3 linked regions of the Homo sapiens genome follow. The protein of the gene in region 2 purifies or fractionates together with the protein of the main gene of each other region. This does not show direct contact. Each region holds a gene or a part of one and is shown on either strand. Other genes may lie near its edges.

Region 1 (7,021 bases), on a different chromosome or scaffold from region 2:
TAACTTTAGACTTGGAAAATCTCTTTTCTAGATTAAATATAAGACACCTCAACCTATAGGAGAAGTATATTTTGCAGAAACTTTTGATAGTGGAAGGTTGGCTGGGTGAGTATTCATTCAAGAGAATGTTTTCTTTGATTTATTAGCTTTTTTGAAGTTATTAGGTTTTGGCCTATGAAAATTATCTCTACTACAGATCTATAAAAAATTTTAAAGTAGTTTAATTGACAATGTAAATCAGTACTTAGTATATTTTTGTAATTGATAGAATGTTTAATTTGAATAGTTATTTATTCAAAGAAAATATACTAATTCCGAATGCAAAGATGAAATTTATAACATTTCTTTATTCTCTAGGACAGATTAACACTCTTAAGTTCAGATGACAAATATGAGTACTGCTCTACTCTAAATAATGGAAAAAACAAAAGTTAATATTAAATGATTATTATGTGTCAGATGTCCTTAAAAAAAGTAGATAATTACCATATTTAATCCCCATTTTACAGGTGGAGAAACCGAGGTTTCTTGTACCTTACCTGTGATCATACAGCTAGTAAATTATAGATTCCAAATTCGGTTTAACTCTAGCCCTTCAGGATTATGTGTAGGCATCCTTATTTAGCATCTAAGTATGAATTTATTGTTGAATGAAAAGTGACTGTATTGGGTGATCTTTTATTGTGTTTCTGTATGCCTTATATCTATAAATTGCTGCTTTTATTGTCAATGACATATATGTATGTTCAACTTTATTTACAGATGGGTCTTATCAAAAGCAAAGAAAGATGACATGGATGAGGAAATTTCAATATACGATGGTAAAATATTTATTTAAGTATTAGATATAACCAGTATGGCCTGGAGTTCACTAAACTTTGAGATTAGATTTTTGTTAAATTGTGTTGGCTGGAGTCCCCCACCCTGCCTCACAATAAAATGTTCAGTCTTTTATCTTGTCCCTCTTCAATATTTCTGAAAAACCCTTCGCTATTTCTGAAAATCTCACTCTTAAGCCAGTTAATCTAGTTTTCTAACTGAACAGTTGAATTTTCACTCTACTGCTGTTAGTCTTTTGCATTTCCTGAAGCAGTATTTCCCAGGCTACTGCTGTCTCTATGGTTTCATCTCAAGCATAGACACACCTTGATCTATAAATTAAATAAATTATAATTTATGGTAAGATTCTCCTAGCAAGTAAAAAGCAGAAGATAGCTAATGAGAGCTACAAGATATGTGGCTGCTTCTGGAATCCTCATCTCCAGGTCTATATCCATTATCATAGGGTGTCTAATAGGATTATCTTCAACCTTAGCTCTAGAAAGAAATGTCCTATAGGCAGGGGTCATATTGTCTTCCCTAATAGGACTACCCTAGAGTATGACCAAATATTTTCTTCTTTGTGGTCTAAAAACCAGCCTCCTTGATTGTTATATGCTGAAGCAAGATCAGCCTCTTCTCACAGTGACTGATAGTGGTAATTTCTTCTTTCTCAGAGGACCTCATACTCATAAACATGTGGCCCTGCACTCAGACTCTGATAAGCAGTTACATCACAACAGCAAAACAGATAGCATGTTGGATGTCAGCTGTCTGCTTCCTTTTCATAGTTTCTGTTTAGTGTAAGATAAAGATCATACCTGCATGTCTTCCTTTGCATGGTGTTCGCCATCCCAGCAAATCCCCTGTGTATATATATACACATATATACATATATACACAAATATATATACATATACACATATATGTGTGTATATATATGTGTGTGTGTGTATATATATATATATATATATATATGCTTATCAACTCCAAAAAGGACACCACCATATGCACAGAAAAAGCAGTAGTGGGATTTCTGGATCAAATAGTAGATCTACTTTCAGTTTTTTAATAAACCTCCATGCTGTTTTCCATAGAGGCTGTATTAATTTACATTGCACCAGCAGTGTATAAATGTTCCCTTTTTACCACATCCATGCCAATTGTTTTTTGACTTTTTAATAATGGCCATTCTTACAGGGGTAACGTAGTATCTCATTGTGGTTTTAATTTGCATTTCCTTGATGATTAGTGATGTTGAGCATTTTCTAAACATGTTCGTTGGCCATTTCTATATCTTCTTTTGAGAAATGTCTATTTATGTCATTTGCCTACTTTCTGATGGGATTAATTTTTTTCTTGCTGATTTGTTTGAGTCTCATGATTCTGGATACTAGTCCTTTGTCAGATTCATAGGTTATTAATATTTTCTCCCACACTGTGGGTTATCTGTTTACTCTGATGATTATTTCTTTCGCTGTGCAGAAGCTTTTTAGTTTAATTAGGTCCCATTTATTTATTTTTGTTTTTGTTGCATTTGCTTTTGGGTTCTTGGTCATGAATTCTTTGCCTAAGCCAATGTCTAGAAGAGTTTTTCTGGTGTTATCTTCTAGAATTTTCATGGTTTCAGATCTTAGGTTTAAGTCTTTAATCCATCTTGAGTTGATTTTTGTATAAGGTGACAAGTAAGGATCCAGTTTCATTCTTCTATATGTGGCTTGCCAGTTTTCTCAGTACCATTTATTAAATAGGGTGTCCTTTCCCTAATTTATATTTTTGTATGCTTGGTCAAAGATCAGTTAGTTGTAAGTATTTTGCTTTATTTCTGGTTCTTTATTCTGTTCCAGTGGTCTATGTGTCTACCTGAGACCATTACCATGCTGTTTTGATAGTATGGCCCTGTATAATTTGAAGTCAGGTAATGTGATGTCTCCAGATTTGTTCTTTTTGCTTAGGATTACTTTGGCTATTCAGGCTCTTTTTTGGTTCCATATGAACTTTTGGATTTTTTTTCCTAATTCTGTGAAAAATGTTTTTGGTATTTTCACAATAATCACACTGAATCTGTAGATGGCTTTGGGCGCTATGATCATTTTCATGATATTGATTCTTCCAATCCATGAGCATGGGATGTGTTTCCATTTGTTTGTGTCATCTATGATTTTTTTCAGCAGTGTTTTGTAGTCCTCCTTGTATAGATAGATCTTTCACCTCTGTTAAGAATATTCCTAGGGATTTTTTTTTTTTTTTTTGCAGCCATTGTAAAAGTCATTGAGTTCTTGATTTGATTTTCAGTTTGGTCGTTGTTGCTATGTAGCAGTACTACTGATTTGTGTACATTGATTTTGTAAGCTGAGACTTTTATTGAATTGATTTTTCAAGTCTAGTAGTCTATTGGATGAGTCTTTTGGGTTTTCTAGGTATGCAATCATATCATTAGCAAACAGTGATAGCTTGACTTCCTCGTTTCCAATTTGTATGTCCTTTATTTCTTTCTCTTGCCAGATTGCGCTGGCTAGGACTTCCAGATAAAGTTGTTACTTCTTAAAATAAGACCTTTATAGGGGGCGAGAGGCAAACTACAAGTTAGTGATAATACAATTCACCATCAATGTGAGAGAAAGAAAACCAAGTACATTAATCTTTTTCAAAAAAATATAATATGACCAAATCAGGGGGAGAAAGAAAAGAAACTTGGAAACTTAATAAAAACACACACATTTTTAAAAGTCTAAAAATGTATGTACAATTATAGACCAAAAATTACCCCTCTTTGATTTATAAGACTGTGTCTGGTTCTTGCATTATTTTTCTTAGAAAGAAAAAAAATGATATAAGAGCATTTGTGATTCAAAAGTGCTCATTAATGAATATTTTGAGTTGACACAATACTGGAAAATAGCCAGTTTTGTCGAATTGAATTTTCTTGGAATAGGCAATACCTATCATTTTCAAAACAGAAGATTTTACACAAACAAATATAAGTTGATTTTCTATTCTAAAACCAGTAAAGGAGTAAAGTCTAACATATAACTTTTGGGCTATAGGTAGCCCACCTAGCTTTGCATTGTATGTGGCCCATAATCTAATTTCAGGAATGTCCTGATCTTAACATGGAAAATTGTAACACAGAGAAGGCCTAACTCAGTTTTGCCTTGTTGTAGCTTAGCACTTATGCAGTGCTTTGCTGCCTTCCTGGCCAAAAGTTCTGAGAGCTGATTAGTGTACCCTGAGAAGGGTTTGTGTGAATTAAGCATGCAGTTTTCAAAATGAACTTTAAATCTTTACAATAACTGCTGCAAGTAAGAAAAGTAGCTGATGAGTATTGTGCATTTCAAAATAAATAGACTACTCATTTTGTGTTATGTGTCATATGCAGTTTCAAATATGTCATTTTGAAAATACAATATTGACATACCCTATTGAGACAAACCACATTTTATAATTTCATTGATTAAAAACTCTTTCATAGAAAAACCAAACTAATTCAGCTTTAAGAGTGACTTAATTAGACACTATAGTGTTTGCTATTAGTTTTCACAACTTTAGTTAAGAAGATGAAATCATTCTTTGATAGAAAAAAAAAGATAAATGAGCAGGCATACATATATAGTTGAAGATATTTCCTGATTTAAAATTTTTATTTTTCCCAAGTCAGGCTTCCTGGATAAAAATTATTGTTCACAACTGCTGATAAATAATTCTTAGGTCAATGTTTTCTGTTTTAGTTTAATTTGCTTTGCTTTATTTTTTAGGAAGATGGGAAATTGAAGAGTTGAAAGAAAACCAGGTACCTGGTGACAGAGGACTGGTATTAAAATCTAGAGCAAAGCATCATGCAATATCTGCTGTATTAGCAAAACCATTCATTTTTGCTGATAAACCCTTGATAGTTCAGTAAGTGTTGCTATGTTTTTGAATACTTTTTCTGAATTTTGTATTAGCTTTGGCTTCTGAATATAGCTTGTATTTTGAAAATGGATGTGAAAATCTAGATCTTCCTTTTTCGTTTCACTTAGTTAAAACACAAATGTGCATATACACACAAACATATCCATGCTTTCAATAAAAAGCAGGTAAATGATAAAATTATACAAAGATCAACCATTCTTATGGCCTAGTACTAATATTTATATTTGTTTATTTCAAGGAGTTGTATGTGGGCTATTAAGCAGCATATTTCCTTTGGTCTGAGTGCTTGTATTGACTAAATGAGGAATAAATAGTTTGGCTCTCTTAAAAAAATTTAAAAATTATGTGATATATACTGTAATATATACAATTCTGCTGTCATAAACTATATAATGCATAGTAAAAATCACCATTTTTGTTTTACTCTTAAAATTACTTGTTATCGCCGGGCGCGGTGGCTCACGCCTGTAATCCCAGCACTTTGGGAGGCCGAGGCGGGCAGATCACGAGGTCAGGAGATCGAGACCATCCTGGCTAAAACGGTGAAACCCCGTCTCTACTAAAAATACAAAAAATTAGCCGGGCGTAGTGGCGGGCGCCTGTAGTCCCAGCTACTTGGGAGGCTGAGGCAGGAGAATGGCGTGAACCCGGGAGGCGGAGCTTGCAGTGAGCCGAGATCCCGCCACTGCACTCCAGCCTGGGCGACAGAGCGAGACTCCGTCTCAAAAAAAAAAATAAAAAAAAAAATAAAAATAAAAAAAATTACTTGTTATCAAAATATTAAACAATATATTCAGAACAGAATAATAAAAATTGCTATTAAACCAGTGATAAGATTCAAAGGCAGAAAATTTATTTCAAAAATAAATGTTTATGAATACCAGTGTCTTTCAAGCAGGGACCCCTTTTAAAGGTCACATTCTCACAGATAATCCTTTCTTTCAACCTCTCCACCTCCCCACCATGCCTGGCATGGTGCCTCATGCCTCATGTGTGTAATCCCAGCACTTTGGGAGGCCTAGGTGGGCAGACAGCTTGAACCCAGGAGTTCAAGACCAACCTGGCAACATGGCAAAACCCCGACTCTACAAAAAAATTTTAAAAATTAGCCAGGCATGGTGGTGCCCGACTGTAGTCCCAGCTACTCTGGAGGCTGAGGTGGGAGGATCACCTAAGCCCAGGAAGTCGAGGCTGCAGTGAGCCAAGGTCACACCAGTGCATTGCAGCCTGGGTGACAGAATGAGATCTTGCCTCAAAAAAAAAGAAAGAAAGAAAAAAAAAGAGGACCAAGAATTGAATAGCAGTCTTTCATATGTTTAAAAACAATTCAAAGGAGAGTGAATGTTTGTCTCCTCTTAATATTGATAAAATGAAATGGGGTAAATAAAATGAAGAGATTTATATTCAATGCTATAAATGCTGATTTACAACATAACTTTACTATAAAGCTGCTTTTCCCAAATTGTATACATGTTAATATATATGAATATAATTAAAGATGAAGAATATCCTAACTCAAAACGTAGGAAGTAAAGGCCTGGCGCAGTGCTTCACACCTGTAATCCCAGCACTTTGGGAGGCCAAGGTGGGTGGATCACGAGGTCAGGAGATCAAGACCATCCTGTCTAACATGGTGAAACCCTGTCTCTACTAAAAATACAAAAAATTAGCCGGGTGTGGTGGCAGGCGCCTGTAGCCCCAGCTACTCGGGAGGCTGAGGCAGGAGAATGGCGTGAACCCGGGAGGCAGGGCTTGCAGTGAGCCGAGATCATGCCACTGCACTCCAGCCTGGGCAACTGGGCAACAGAGTGAGACTGTCTCAAAAAAAAAATAAATAAATAAATAAAAATAAAATTAAAAAAGGAAGTATGTTAGCTCATTAAAGACTGAGAAGTTCTACATATGAAAACCTGTTTTCAGCATTACTACTGTGTTTCCCAAACACATTTGATCACATAAGTTTATTTTCCCACCTAACAGTAATTGCTATTTCATGGAACAATTTGAGAAATGATACTCTAAAGAAATTAAGGTTACCATATACTCTGCATATGTCCTTGGTTTTCCTATGACTGGAAGTTTAGCAGTAGTCAAGCTGTATGATAAACATTTTGTTGATCCTCTAATCCATTGTGAATCATTTATACTAGGTAAAAGTTAATTATTTGAAAACTCTAAAAGTTTGCAGTATAAGAAATGGACAAGGTGATTGAATCTAGGCATAATGGAACAATGAAACTGTGTTCACATTTATGCAGCCACTGTACAAAATTGTTTTTTCCAATTCTTA
Region 2 (7,343 bases):
ATCTCTCCTAAAAAAATACAAAAACTAGCCAGCGTGGTAGCGGGCACCTATAATCCCAGCTACTTGGGAGGCTGAGGCAGGGAGAATTGCTTGAGCCCGGGAGGTGGAGGTTGCAGTGATCTGAGATCGCACCTCTGCACTCCAGCGTAGGCAACAGAGCGAGACTCCGTCAAAAGAAAGGAAGAAAGAAAGGAAAGAAGGAAAGAAAGAGAAAGAAAGAGAGAGAGAGAAAGAGAAAGAAAGGAAGAAAGAAAGAAAGAAGGAAAGAAAGAAAGAAAGAAAGAAAGAGAAAGAAAGAGAGAGAGAGAAAGAGAAAGAAAGGAAGAAAGAAAGAAAGAAGGAAAGAAAGAAAGAAAGAAAGAAAGAAAGAAAGAAAGAAAGAAAGAAAGAAAGAAAGAAAGAAAGAAAAGAGATGGCCAGGGCTGGCCTGGGGGCATGAAGTCATCATCAAAGGATCCTAAACAAGCTGGACAAGTGACTCCTTGTCAAGGACACTGGAAACTGCTAGGTGCTGAATTGTGGGTGCCAATTGGATGAAACGATCCTTTTGAAAAATGTCCCCTTTATGAGTATAATATGTGCAATCAAAGAACATTTGATAAACTGAGACAAGAAGAAAGTGCAATTAGTCCAGTGGCCTGATCATACCACTGTGACAATCTTTTTCCAGTTTCCTTTCGTTGACACCTCGTCTTTCCACATGGCTGCAGTCCTATCTGTATGCAGTCCTGCCTCCTGCTTTTGCTCATTTACACCATATGTGGTTATTTTAATAATATTACATTTTAGTCTAAATTATTGTCTAATATCCCACTGGGAACAGCTATCAAAATATAGCCGTGTTGTTGGGCATTTACTCATTCATTTAGCAAATACTTATTAAATTTCTTCTACGTGCCATGCTCTGTTCAAGGGGGAACGGAGAAAGGCTCAGAGGTTGAGCTAAGGGAGAAGACCAGGCAGCCCATTCAGGATATAAATGAGTTCTTGCCCATGTGGCTCCAGCTAGTGAAAGGCAGAGCTGGGATCTGAGCAAGTCGGCCTGACAGCCTCTAGCACTGCTGGTAGGAAGAAGCTGGCTTGCTCCTGCCCTGCCCGCACATCCCCATAACACACAGAGAGGAGGTTCATGGTGGGACCTGGAGTCCAGCTGCCTTTACTCGGCTCCTCGACCCTCCATGTCACCTTGGGCAAGTTGATTAATGCCATGAAACCTCTCAGTGTCTTTCTCTGTAAAATGGGCATAATAATTCCTACTTCCTGGGTGGTGAAGAGTATTAAATCAGTTAAACAGTGAAAGTGCTTAGCATAGGGCCTGCAAGTAGCTCAAAAAAGACCAACCTGCCTGGCGTGGTGGCTCATGCCTGTAATCCCAGCACTTTGGGAGGCCTAGGCAGGTGGATCACCTGAGGTCAGGAGTTCAAGACCAACATGGTGAAACCCCACCTCTACTTAAAAAAAAAAAAAAATTACAAAAATTAGTTGGGCGTGGTGGCAGGCCCCTGTAATCCCAGCTACTCTGGAGGCTAAGGAGGGATAATCGCTTGAACCCGGGAGGCTGAGGTTGCAGTGCGCTGAGATCGCGCCATTGCACTGCAGCCTGGGCGACAGAGTGAAACTCCGTCTCAAAAAATAAAACAAACAAAAAAACAACCATGGTTATTCCCACTGCGGTTGCCATCGGTTTTGCAAGGGCTAGCCCCCCTCTTCTTTCAAATCAGGAAACTAGTGCAGGCAGGGGACCTGGTTTGTCCCAGGTCACGCTGGGGGCCAGCCCTCCTTCCCTCCACACCCGCCGGAGTATGCCGGGGCAGGCCTCCTGCCACTCACCTGGTCGGCACCGAAGGAGGTGAGGTTGCTCCGGACGGAGCTGGCGGCCAGGCCGAGTAGCAGCAGGCCCGCGTAGAGGACGGGCGCGCAGTAGGGGCTGGGCGAGGAGCGCGGGCAGCCGGCCGAGGGGCAGGCAGGTCCCAGCGGCGACGCGGGCATCTCTCCGCAGAAGGAGCTGCGGCCGTCGGGGAAGGCGGTGGCGGGCAGCAGGCCCGAGGCGGCCAGGTAGAGCAGCAGGCTGAGCGCGACCGCGCGGTAGCGGCCCAGGTACACGTCGGCCAGCCAGCCGCCCACGGGCGCCAGCAGGTAGGAGGCGCCCAGGAATACCAGCGCGGCGCGCGTCGCCTGCTCGCCGGTCCAGTTGAAGTTGGTGCTGTTGAGGTACAGCACGAGGTTGGCGGTGACGCCGAAGAAGGCGGCGCGCTCCAGCATCTCCACCAGCAGCACGGCCGCGCCCGCCGCCCGCCGCCACCGTCGAGGGCCCCGCGCACCGCGAGGCAGCAGCGGCTGGCGCTCCCCGGGCACGCGGGGCTGCTCCCGGGCGCGCGGCGCGGGCATCCTGGCTCCGGGCTGGGCCCCCCGCGGCTCTTCTCTCCTCTCCTCTCCCCGCCTCAGAGCCCTGCACTCCTGCCCCCGGGCCTCGGCCCTCTCCCCCACCCAACTGGCTGGCCCTCCTTTCTCACCGCTTTGGCCCACCCTTCCCTCCTGTCCCCTCTCCCTTTCTTGCCCTACCCTTCCTGTCCCTCCGCTCACTACCCGGACTCTACCACCTCCTCCCTAATTCTCAACTCCCCTCTCCCTTCCCCCACCCCTAAGGCTTCCTCCCCGCGCCTCTCCTGCAGCTGTTTCTCCCTAACTCTCCCCTCTCCTCCCTCCACCTTGACCCTTCCTCGCACTCTTGTTCACACTGCGACCCTCCCTGCTTCACTTCGCTGCCCCTCCGCCTCCCTTTCCCCTCCCCGTTTGTCGCCCCTTCCTGTTGTCCCCTCTCCTTATGACTCCTGGCCTGCCCTGGGCGTGGGGTGGGGGCTCCCTCTGCCCCAGTCACCCTGCTGCCCCTTGCCGTCTTCTCCACCTCCTCCCTGTCCCCCTCACCCCCACTGCCTACACTCCCCTCTCAGTCCCCTGCAGCCCTCCCCCCAGGCTCAGCCTCTGTCCCTCTCTCGGCTTCTTGAGAAACTCTGGGCTCCCCTCGCTTCCCCTTTCACAGGCCCTATCCGCAGTCCCCTGCCTGCATCACATGGCGCTACTGGGTGTTTAGGAGAAGTGAAAGCCTGGGTCACAGGGCTCCTGCCCGGTCAGCTTTCTAAAAACCTCCCTCCTTCTCTACCTCTGCCTCCTACCCCAAACCCCCGCTGCTGGCCTCCTTAGAGCCAAAAAATTCCAGGAGGAATTTTTTCTTTCAGTTTCATTTCTCGCCAGGATTCCACTTTTGCTTTACCCTCTTCCAATCAAACTCCACGCCTCCACCCGAGGCGCCACGGGTAGAAAGAAGTGGAAAGGCTACCTGCATCATTTGGTCACACTCAGCCATTTCACAGATGCAGAGACAGACCCAGTGGGGCTAGGGCAGGAAGGTGGAGAAAGATTGGTTCCTGGTAACTGAACTAGGGGTGAAGCCCTGCCCCGGGCTCCTGAGTGGCAGGGAAATTCACAGCGCAATTCGGATTGCACAGAGGCTGCTGTGAGGAAGGAAGTGGGGCACTTTCAACAAGCCTGCGGGCCATAGAGGACCACAAGTGAGTCGGGATTGAGAGGGACACCGACCTCAGACTAAATCAGAGTCAGCCTCAGAACTCCTAAGCACCAGCCCCACCCTGACCTAGGAGCCCGGGGGATCTGGCCTCTGCTCTCCTCTGATCTCATCTCAGCCCCATGTTCACTCAAGTCCAGCCAGCCGGCCTCCCAGGTTCCCCTTCCATGCTAAGCTCCTCCCTGCCTCAGGGCCTTTGTCTTTGCTGACCCCTCTGCCATAACTGCTCTCCCTCCATATCCTTGCATGGCTGGCTGCTTCTCTTTATTGAGGTTTCAGCATATATGTCTCCTTTGTAGGGACCTTCCCTGATTTTCCCATCTAAGTAGTTTCCTACTGGATTCTCAGCATCCCCCATCACATTGTCTTGTTTTAATGTCTTCAGAGCACATATTACTTGTTCAGTTAGCACCAGTAGAATAGGCCCTCCATCAGATCAGAGACCTTTTCTAACTCTTCACTGTTTTATTCTCAATGGCTTCCCAGTGCTTGGCAAATAGTAGGTGCTCAATAAGTATTGCCTGAATCAATGAATGGAAAGAGTGTCCCAAGGCAAAATTTGTAAGAATAATAATATCAGGAAAGCTAAAGCTAAATAAACTGAGTCTCACAAAAGCTATAGATACCAGCAAAAAAAGCACTATAGATACCAGCAAAAAAGCGAGGGATTTTTTGTTGTTGTTGTTTGTTTGTATGTTTGTTTTGAGACGAAGTCTCACTCTGTCGCCCAGGCTGCCATGCAGTGGCACAATCTCGGCTCACTGCAACCTCCACTTCCTGAGTTCAAGCAATTCTCCTGCCTCAGCCTTCTGAGTAGCTGGGATTACAAGCGCGTGCCATCACGCCTGGCTAATTTTTGTATTTTCAGTAGAGATGGGATTTCACCATGTTGGTCAGGCTAGTCTCAAACTCCTGACCTCATGATCCACCTGCTTCGGCCTCCCAAAGTCCTGGGATTACAGTTGTGGGCCACTGTAAGTTTTTAACATGTTAGAGAAGCCAGGCCAAGAGGATGGTGAGAAAGCAAAGCCCTCCATCCCAGGTCTTCCTGCAGTCACTGCAGTCAGGACCATGTGCTCTCGTGAGGTGGGCAGAGCCTGGAGGAGAGAAGAGGAGACTTCAATGGAGCTGCACCATCCCTCGACTTGGAGGAAGCTTAGGTCATCAGCTGTGACGGTATGGTGACGAAGTTCAGATCACATCAGATCCAGCTCCTTCCTCTCTTGGCAAGATCACTAGGCTGGCAGATGAGCTCAGACTTAGCCCAGAGAGCTGAGTCTTACCCAGAGAGCTGAGAGAGTGCTGGCCTGCCATCGGTGATGTTCAGCGGGTGGTAGATGAAGGGAAAGGCTTCTAAAAGCAGTGTGGCCTGCAGAGAAAAACCCAGGAGAGGAAAGTAGCAAAGAAAAGAGGAGTGCAGCATCTTTTTTTTTTTTTTTTTTTTTTTTTTTGAGACAGAGTCACACTCTGTTGGCCAGCCTGGAGTGCAGTGGCACGATCTCGGCTCACTGCAACCTCTGCCTCCCAGGCTCAAGCAATTCTCCTGCCTCAGCCTCCTGAGTAGCTGGGATTACAGGCGTGTGCCACCACGCCCGGCTAATTTTTGTGTTTTTTAGTGGAGATGGGGTTTCACCATGTCAGCCAGGCTGGTCTCAAATGCCTGACCTCAGGTAATCCATCTGCCTTGGCCTTCAAAAGTGCTGGGATTACAGGTGTGAGCTACCGCACCCAGCCCAGCGTCTTTCTTACTGCCCAGCCTCCATCTCCAAGGTACCAGGGGGCCAGGTGCTGGGCTGGTTCACTGGGGAAAGTCCTGGGGACACATTTAGCTGGGGAGAAGGTAGGGGTGACTTGCCTCTTGCAGATAGGGGAAGTAATGTTCCAAAAGCGGACATGACTGTCACCCAGGGCACGAGTCACAACACTGATGACCAGTGGGAGGGAGCTGGAGAGCAGAATCTTAGAACTGAGGAGCCCCAGAGCTGGTGGGCCATGGCCGTGACCCACAGGTCTATGTGGTTTGGCTCTGATAGTGTTTAGTTACATGGTGTTTAGTTTTTGTTGTAGCTTCTGTTACTGTTTCTCTTTTTATTTTTTTATTTTTATTTTTTTTTGAGATGGAGTCTCACTGTGTCACCCAGGCTGGAGGCTGGAGTGCAGTGGGGTGACCTCGGCTCACTGCAACCTCCGAATCCTGGGTTCAAGAGATTCTCGTGCCTCAGCCTCCCGAGTAGCTGGGACTACAGGTGCCCGCCACCGTGCCCAGCTAATTTTTGTATTTTTAGTAGAGAAGGGGTTTCGCCATGGTGGCCAGGCTGGCCTCAAACTCCTGACCTCAAGTGATCCACCTACCTCGGCCTCCCAGAGTGCTGGGATTATAGGCATGAGCCACCGTGCCCGGCCATATTGTTTTTTAATTTTAAAACATTTTTGAAGTTTTAGTTATCTCCTTAAAAATTCAGAAGTATTGGCCGGGCACGGTGGCTCACGCCTGTAATCCCAGCACTTTCGGAGGCCGAGGTGGGTGGATCGCCTGAGGTCGGGAATTCGAGACCAGCCTGACCAACATGGAGAAACCCCATCTCTACTGAAAACACAAAATTAGCCGGGCGTGGTGGCACAGGCCTGTAATCCCAGCTACTCAGGAGGCTAAGGCAAGAGAATCGCTTGAACCCAGGAGGCGGAGGTTGCAGTGAGCCCAGATCGCACCATTGCACTCCAGCCTGGACGACAAGAGCGAAACTCTATCTCAAAAAAAAAAAAAAAATCAGAAGTATTAGCATGAAGATCCGGACTTTTGGCTACTCCTGAAATTGCAGAGGATCTGGCATCTCTGGGCCTGCATGCTCACAGAGAGCCAAGGGCAGCAACACTGTCTGGTGCGGTGACATGCTGAAGTGTCCCTGCAGATGCCTTGGTTGGAGGCTGGTGAAAATGAGCCTTTTTACCTGTGCATCTAACACAGCTACTGTTGAGTGTGAGAAGCACAGGGGCTGCGTCATCAGCGAGCTTTCTTAGAGAGATCACAATGAGGATGTTAGGTGAAGTGGCTTCTCGAGTCTCCTAGATTCTCCTGATGGCACTCTGCCAGGGCAGGGTGAGAGACGTCAGATTTTAGGAAGTTCAAAAGTAGGACTTGACTAACCACTTAGGCCCCCAGCTCTACCTTTTAAAACCCAGCACAATTACTTTATGTGGTTGAAAAAAATGAAGCAATGAAACCTTGATCCAACTTTCACTCTCCAGGTACAATTTCTTAGTAATGCACTGGCACCATCCTGCTGTGTTGCCCACAGGTTTTATAGTTCACAGGTGAGCATCAAATACACACAGCCTCATCAAGACTGTGCAAGCAGGACCAAGAGGTGGCCCCTGCAGTTGAGGCAAGGTTATCCCCCAGATCTAGCCAAGGCCTGCCTCACACCTTCAGAACAATTTAGATTTCTCTTATACCTGGCCAACCCACTCTCTACACCTGTAGGGTGATCCTGGGCTTGACAATAGGTGAAAATTAAAAAATTGAGCCACCTGGATAAAAGCATAATAGCCACAGATTGAGGAGAGGCAAAGTAGAGGGAAGGACAGTGACAGTCTGGGGAATTTTTTGACTGCTATGCAGGCATTCATCCACAGCAGCTTCTTATGCTGCAGTGACCAATCCTAACATCCTGCTCACTCCAGGGTGGTCAGTCCCAGCATGCCCTGGTGTGTAGCAGGTGCACCAGGAATTGCAGGTAACCTACCGCTGAATTGTCCACAC
Region 3 (7,564 bases), about 65 Mb from region 2:
AAGTGTCCCCAAATCTCTCATCATGAAGGATCTGGAAACAGATGGAACATAATGGAGGCAAATATTTATTTTAAAGATAAGTTACTTCATGCACATTTCCACATGATGACCTCACATACTTGTAGCTCTAGTAAGATAGCAGTAGATTCTAGCACTAATAGAGTGAATCAAGTGAAGCTATTCCTGTACAGCTGAAACCTAAAATCCCTATTTTTTTTCTAAAACACTCACCACCCTTTCATTTTTACAAGGGGTTTTACATTTTACACCCTCTCATTTTTACATTTTACATTTTTACAATGTGCTCTTGACCAGTAACCTCCTCTGAGCCTCAATGCCCCTAACTATCCCTCCTACACATTCTAAGCACTTTTGAGGGTTTGGAGATGGAAGATAATTACATTTCAATATCTTCTTAAGCAATTTTTATGTTTGCTGGATACCTTCAAATACTTGAATGAAAATACAAGAGCAAGATAAAAGTTCTTACAAAAATTACTAAATACATGCTTCAGTCATACAGAGCCCTCGGGCACAGTAAAGTTTAAGGTATGACATGAAATTGCGTACCAAAACCTCCAAATAGGTCTTTTTTATTTTATTTTATTTTTTGAGACAGAGTCTCGCTCTTGTTGCCCAGGCTGGAGTGCAACACTGGGCTCGGCTCACTGCAACCTCCACCTCCCAGGTTCAAGTGATTCTCTTGCCTCAGCCTCCCGAGTAGCTGAGATTACAGGAACCCGCCACCACGCCCAGCTAATTTTGTGTATTTTTAGTAGAGATGGGGTTTCGCCATGTTGGCCAGGCTGATCTCAAACTCCTGATCTCAGGTGATCCATCCATCTCAGCCTCCCAAAGTGCTAGGATTACAGGCATGAGCCACCACGCCCGGCTGGTCTTTTCTGTTTTCTAACTTTAAATATATACAGATACAATTTTAATAAACATGCAATAAATAGTGGATTTTAAACTAGGCCTCAAAAAAGTTCATATGTATAAACAGTCTTTAAAACAGTAAGGCTTTCCCATTTTATTTCTCAGGTGAATGGGATATCTAGTTTCAAAAATTAAGAACTTGAGAGTTCATGTGAGAAATACTTGTAATTAATATACTATTCTCTCATTTAATCTGTGGTGACTTCTAAGATGAATAGAAAACCCACTTTCAGGCATTTTTTAAGAACCTGATATTCTAAAGTTCTCAACACTCACTCAATCAAGTTGCAGTATTCTCAGTTTAAGAGGTATGACCATAATACAAAGACAGAATTTCACAAGCAGCTTGTACAAACCTTAAATTTCAAAATATAAGCACACTTTCCCCGACCTTTAACCACTTCACCAAACTGCTCCTCATTGACCCAACTGGACTAATGCCATTCAGAACTGGAAGAGCAGGGGATATGGCAGTAGGAAGGCAATTTGCCCAACATTGTATATACCCTCTGCTCCTTAGGTCAAATCCTACACAGATAGGCTCACTTCGGATAGAAGTCTCTAGGGTAAGAAACTTCTGTTAATACTCCCACTGTTTCCTCCTGAAAACAAACACCTCAGAGTTCCAGTCGCGTAGGTACAGCCATACAGACATGTTCTCAGGGTTGAGGTGAGGGCAGCTGAGCTAGATAACTAGCAAAGGCTCAGTGATATGCACGACACTAGTTTGTAAAGACTCACAGATCCACTCCCGTAACCTGCCACTGGCTCATCTATAAATTAAGGGTACTAAACTTCTTCATAGGTTTCTTGCATCTAATAGGGCACAACAGCATGAAAAAAACTTAAAATTCTATATAAACACAACCCCACCAAAGTGAGCCAGCTTGGAGGTTTAAGGAAGCCCATTACTTGGCCTGGATTTCTCACAGGGAACTGACAGGGAACCTGAAACATTCTGTCTCAGTCCACAACAGCTGTGTCATTTGATCCCTGGCCAGCTAACACCTGGTTTCTGCATGTACCAAGTGGCAGGACACCTCCTAAGAGTGACCTATGAAGGATAAATCACTTCACTTTTATACTTAGATCCTAACATCCTTCCTACAGGAATATTTGGTGAATTACCCAGTCTGACAAATAGCTGAGGCATGGGGAAAAATAACCTGCCACAATTTGAGAACACACACACAGACTGAATGACACAGGGGGAATCCTACAGCTGAGCTAGACAGATGAAGATGCATCTGGCTCATTTAACAGGTGAGAGAACCCAGTCTCAGAAGTTAAATGACTTGCCCAGACTGACAGCAAATGAATGGCAGCTACAGTGAACCTCAGAACCCGGTGTTCTAACGTTACCTCGGTCGAGACTTGTTTTTACTTAAGCTTTGCAATGAAGATTTTTGTTTTAACACGAGCATCCCATGGACAAATAACCTCTCAAACCTGGAAATACAAATGCCATTAAATTCCCAACAGTCATTAGAAGCTAATAAGCATCTGCTGAGACACACTTTTATTTCTAAGTCACTAAACCCAAGTCTCGGCAAACAGGAAGCTGTCGTAGCCCACTCCAGGTACAGGGAAGGTAAACATCCTCACTTCCCACGGGGCTCCACGGGCTGCCTCTGAGTCCACGGGTCCATTCAGGCCCATCTCCCCACAGCTCCTAGGCAATTCGGCAGAAAACTGGTCTCCCTAGGCACAACTGTGCACGAGGTACGGATCACGCGAGGTGCGGATCACGCACGCTCCGGGTCACACAGGGAGCTAAAGATAGCTGCGCCGCACCTGGGGCAGCCTCGCCCGGGGATGTGCCCGGCCCCGTCCCGCTCCCTCCGGCCCCTTCCCATAAGGGGTCCTCGCCGGTAGCCCCACCAACCCACGCTCGGGCCCTGCCTGCCCTCCCGGTCCCTGCCACTCAGAATGGGCGGCGCGGCGGCCCCGAGGCCTAGCTCGGCTGAGCCCGCACCTACCCACAGCTCCGCCGCCGCGGCTCCGGCCCTGCCCCTAGCCCACCGCAGGCCAGCTCCGCCGGGGCGCTTCCAGGGCCGGGGCCGCTGCGCCCGCACTGGGCATGCCCGGGCCGCACGGGGCCGCTGGGAAGTCGGGCGAGCGCGAAGAACCAGCCGGCACCACGAGGCGGGGCCCAGAGCCGAAGGGGTGGGCCGCGCGGAGCGACGGAGACTGGGAAATGTAGTCAGTCCGGGGTCCCGCCTCGCGCTGCGTGCGGGATCGTCCGGCTCCCAACTCCGCCTGGCGGCGGAGAGGACCCCTCACCCCTCCGCGTCGCCTCCTCCCCGTCGCCTCCTCGCCGATCCCGTTCTCACAGATCTCTCCTCCTGTTCTTTGCCCTCCCCCATTGACTCCACAACGCTGCTTGCGTTTCTAAAATCCTGTGAAATTAGTAACAGGATGCCTTTAATCCCAGCATTTTGGGAGGCCAAGGCAGGCAGATCACGAGGTCAGGAGTTCAAGACCAGCCTGGCCAACATAGCGAAACCCCATCTCTACTAAAATAACAAAAATTAGCCAGGTGTGGTGGTACCTGCCTGTGGTCCCAGCTACTCAGGAGGCTGAGGCAGGAGAATTACTTGAACTCAGGGGATGAAGGTTGCAGTGAGCCGAGATCACACCACTGCACTCCTGCCTGGGCGACTGAGCAAGACTCAGTCTCAAAATAATAATAATAATAATAAATTTAAAAAATGAAATAAAATAAGTGGCTGGGCACGGTGGCTCATGCGTGTAACCTCAGCACTTTGGGAAGCTGAGGCGGGCAGATCACTTGAGGCCACCCTGGCCAAGATGGTGAAATCCCGTCTCTACTAAAAATACAAAAAATTAGCTGGGCATGGTGGCACACACCTGTGGTCCCAGCTACTTGGTCGGCTAAGGAATGAGAATCACTTCAATTCAGGAGGCAGAGGTTGCGGTGAGCCGAGATCGCACTACTGCACTTCAGCCTGGGTGACACAGCTAGACTGTCTCGAAAAATAAAATAAAATAAAACAAAACAAAACAATATAAAATAGAATAGAATAAGGAATCCATCTACTAAAGCTTAGAAATCTTGTTACAAAGAGACCTAAGTGGTTTAATGACAAACTGATTATTGTGCTATTAATTATAATAATAGCTCTTCCTCCAAGCTCTATTCTTTCTCAAGAGTGTCAATTTAGAAAAGATTTTAGAAAGAATTTAGTAGGTATGAGTTTATTCTGGCTTACTTCATGGGAGGAAATCTTTTTTTTTTTTTTTTTTTGAGACTGAGTCTGTCTTTGTCTCCCAGGCTGGAGTGCAGTGGTGCGATCTCGGCTCACTGCAAGCTCCGCCCCCTGGGTTCACGCCATTCTCCTGCCTCAGCCTCCTGAGTAGCTGGGACTACAGGCACCTGCCACCAAGCATGGCTAATTTTTTTGTATTTTTAGTAGAGACGGGGTTTCACCGTGTTAGCCAGGATGGTCTCGATCTCCTGACCTCGTGGTCCGCCCACCTACAGCCTCCCAAAGTGCTGGGATTACAGGCGTGAGCCACTGCGCCTGGCCGGGAGGAAATCTTTTAAATCTCAACATGTATAACCACATTTAAAATAAAAACCAATAATAATTAATACCTTGCATTTTTAAAGAGCTCTCACATGCTTATGTATGATTAGATGCTATTTGTGGACAAGTAGAGGATATTATTTTCCAAATTTCACAAATGAGGAAGTTTGTGGCAGAGCACTTTGAGAAGACATGACCTCCAGTTAAGCTGTGAACCTTAGTTTCTTTTTTTTTTTTTTTTTTTTTTTGAGACAGTGTCTCTCTATCTTGGCTCACTGCAAGCTCCACCTCCCGGGTTCACACCATTCTCCTGTCTCAGCCTCCCAAGTAGCTGGGACTACAGGTGCCCGCCACCACGCCCGGCTAATTTTTTGTATTTTTAGTAGAGACGGGGTTTCACCATGTTAGCCAGGATGGTCTCGATCTTCTGACCTCGTGATCCACCCGCCTTGGCCTCCCAAAGTGCTGGGATTACAGGTGTGAGCCAGCACGCCTGGCCCAAACCTTAGTTTCTTTAACACAGGCTGCTGAAATAAATGGTATATATATGAAGGTGTTTTTTAACTGTATGGATATATGATTTAGTGAAATGATAACAATACTAGATCTAGTGATAGCGACAGGAGACAGCCAAATGCCTAGGCAGTTAGTGGCGGGTCCCCATTGAAACCCCACCTCCAAGCCAAAAACAGTTTAAAGCTCGAAAGCCAAGCTACAAGTTAAGTCCTCAGACCAGATTGAGAACTTGTCTTCCTGTCTTGCATGTTTTCCTCTGATTGATCCCCACCCTTCACCTATTTTACATATACCTACCCTTTCCTGATTGGTTTTCTACACTGTTGTGCCCACCTTTGAGTGGTGCCTTTGCTTTAACCTTTCTTGCATAGCCACAAACCAATCTGCACATACTCCCCATCCTGTGCCTATAAGGACCCCTGACTTAGTCAGTAGAGTGGGAGACCGCCTGACTTTGAGGAAGACGACCTGCCCTTCCTGTCCCTTCTCCAGCTCCCCTCACTGCTGAGACTCGTTTTCATCACTAAAAAAAATTCTCTGCCCTCAACATCCTTCTTTGTTTTTTTCTTTGTTTTTTTTTTTGAGACAGAGTCTTGCTCTGTCACCCAGGCTGGAGTGCAATGGTGCAATCTCAGCTCACTGCAACCTATGCCTCCTGGGTTCAAGCAATTCTCCTGCCTCAGCCTCCTAAGTAGCTGGGATTATAGGCACCTGCCACCACGCCCAGCTAAGTTTTTGTATTTTTAGTAGAGATGGGGTTTCACCATGTTGGCCAGGCTGATCTCAAACTCCTGACCTCAGGTGATCCACCCACCTCAGGCTCTCAAAGTGTTGAGATTACTGGCGTGAGCCACCGCACCTGGCCCGCCATCCTTCAATCCTGCATGTGACCTCATTCTTCTTGGACACTGGACAAGAGCTTGGGACCCACCAAGTACAGGTACCCAGAAAGGCTGTCACACTGGTCCTTTGCCCCCACCAGTGGAAGGCAGCTGCCCCACGTGACAAGGCAAAGGGCCAACTGAGCTACTAACACACTGCTGTTTGTGGATGATGAAACTAAAGGAGCACTGTAACACCCGCTCTGAGGCTTCAGGGTCATGGGCACTTTCACCTGGGCACTGCAGTGTTCCTCTTGAGGCAACATGCCTGGTCTGGCCACAGGCCCCACACAGAGCTTGCTCCTGTGCCAGTGCCCAGAGTGGCTGGCTGGATCTTGAACTTGCTTGCTCATGTGCTCCCTCCTGCAAGTGGTTGATTGTGGTGGGCCTGGTAGACAAGGCGCCCCCTTCCATGAGTTTGTCAAAGGGGCCAAGAAAAATCCTGCATCATTAGGGGCCAGATCTCCTAGCTTCCAGCCTTGGAATCTTCTAGGAGAGAGAGATACTATGATTTATTAAGCATCTACTATACCAAGCCTTTTATATTTATTATTTCAACAACAATTTAAGTGTTGTAATGAAAAATTATCACTATTTTTTTTTGTTTTTGAGATAGAGTCTCACTCTGACACTCAGGCTGGAGTACAGTGGCATGATCATGGCTCACTGAAGCCTTGACCTCCTGGGCCTAAGCAATCCTCTTGCCTCAGCCTCCTGAGTAGCTGTTGTAGCTGATTTAAAAAAAAATTCCATGCCTTCCTATTAAGAAAAAAAAACTCCAACCAGGTTTGTCTAACGCCCGATTCCACACCCTTTCCTCTACCATATTTGTGTTCCATTATGGATCACAAAAGTCTTCTCATTTAAATTTAGGTTGTGTATTGTCATTATTAAAGTAGTGCTCCTCTTTGTTTTGCCTGTGGTTGCTAAAAGAAAAAAAGAGAGAGAGAAAGAAAATAATGAAAGTGTTGGCCAGTATGGTGGCTCATGCCTGTAATCCCAGTACTTTGGGAGGCAGAGGCGGGTGGATCACCTGAGGTCAGAAGTTTGAGACCAGCCTGAACAACATGGTGAAACCCTGTCTCTTCTAAAAATACAAAAATTAGCCTGGTGTGGTTGTGCACACCTGTAGTCCCAGCTACTCAGGAGGCTGATGCAGGAGAATCACTTGAACCTGGGAGGTGGAGGTTGCAGTGAGCTGAGATTGTGCCACTGCACTCCAGCCTGGGCACTAGAGCGAGACTCTGTCTCAAAAAAAAAAAAAACAAAAAAAAACTGCCATTCCTCATGGGTCTTACAGATGCAACTCCCTGCTGGGAACTCAAGCCCTTTTTTTTGCCAGGAAAGGTAAAATCATCTGGGGGTAGAACCAAAAAATGTACAGGTTAATAGAATTATGAAATTTAAGATGTTTAAACAGGGTTTATGTAACGTAGTTGTAATCTCTTTGCCTAAATGTCTTATGAAAATGGGTATTGTATCTAGCTGGAGGATGCTTCCCCTATCTAGTACTATAAAACCAAAGACATGTAAAGCTGCTCTTTTGAAAAGTGTTAGTTGGACATGTTAATGGGAAATAGTAAAATCACCTGAGCCCACAAAGTATCAGGTAGAAGCTAGAGTACTAGTTGGGACAAATCATCCCCTTCATAGCCCTTTGTGGAGTGTTTATTGGGGATA

What was found. The genes of interacting proteins can lie anywhere in the genome.
Region 1: the proteins of SLC15A3 (region 2) and CLGN purify together in Homo sapiens (affinity purification with mass spectrometry; 2 studies listed by BioGRID and IntAct, with this or other methods). This does not show direct contact.
Region 3: the proteins of SLC15A3 (region 2) and EI24 purify together in Homo sapiens (affinity purification with mass spectrometry; 2 studies listed by BioGRID and IntAct, with this or other methods). This does not show direct contact.

Annotation. Positions count from the first base shown.
Region 1 is NC_000004.12:140,403,637-140,410,657, reverse strand, and holds part of CLGN (calmegin precursor), read left to right. Parts: intron 1-31; coding exon 32-105; intron 106-762; coding exon 763-821; intron 822-4,574; coding exon 4,575-4,716; intron 4,717-7,021. UniProt on the Homo sapiens protein: Functions during spermatogenesis as a chaperone for a range of client proteins that are important for sperm adhesion onto the egg zona pellucida and for subsequent penetration of the zona pellucida.
Region 2 is NC_000011.10:60,949,164-60,956,506, forward strand, and holds the start of SLC15A3 (solute carrier family 15 member 3), read right to left. Parts: upstream 3,014-7,343; 5' UTR 2,389-3,013; coding exon 1,831-2,388; intron 1-1,830. UniProt on the Homo sapiens protein: Proton-coupled amino-acid transporter that transports free histidine and certain di- and tripeptides, and is involved in innate immune response. Also able to transport carnosine.
Region 3 is NC_000011.10:125,564,925-125,572,488, reverse strand, and holds the start of EI24 (etoposide-induced protein 2.4 homolog), read right to left. Parts: upstream 3,013-7,564; 5' UTR 2,916-3,012; intron 2,386-2,915; exon of another isoform or gene 2,299-2,385; intron 2,200-2,298; exon of another isoform or gene 2,047-2,199; intron 32-2,046; 5' UTR 1-31. UniProt on the Homo sapiens protein: Acts as a negative growth regulator via p53-mediated apoptosis pathway. Regulates formation of degradative autolysosomes during autophagy.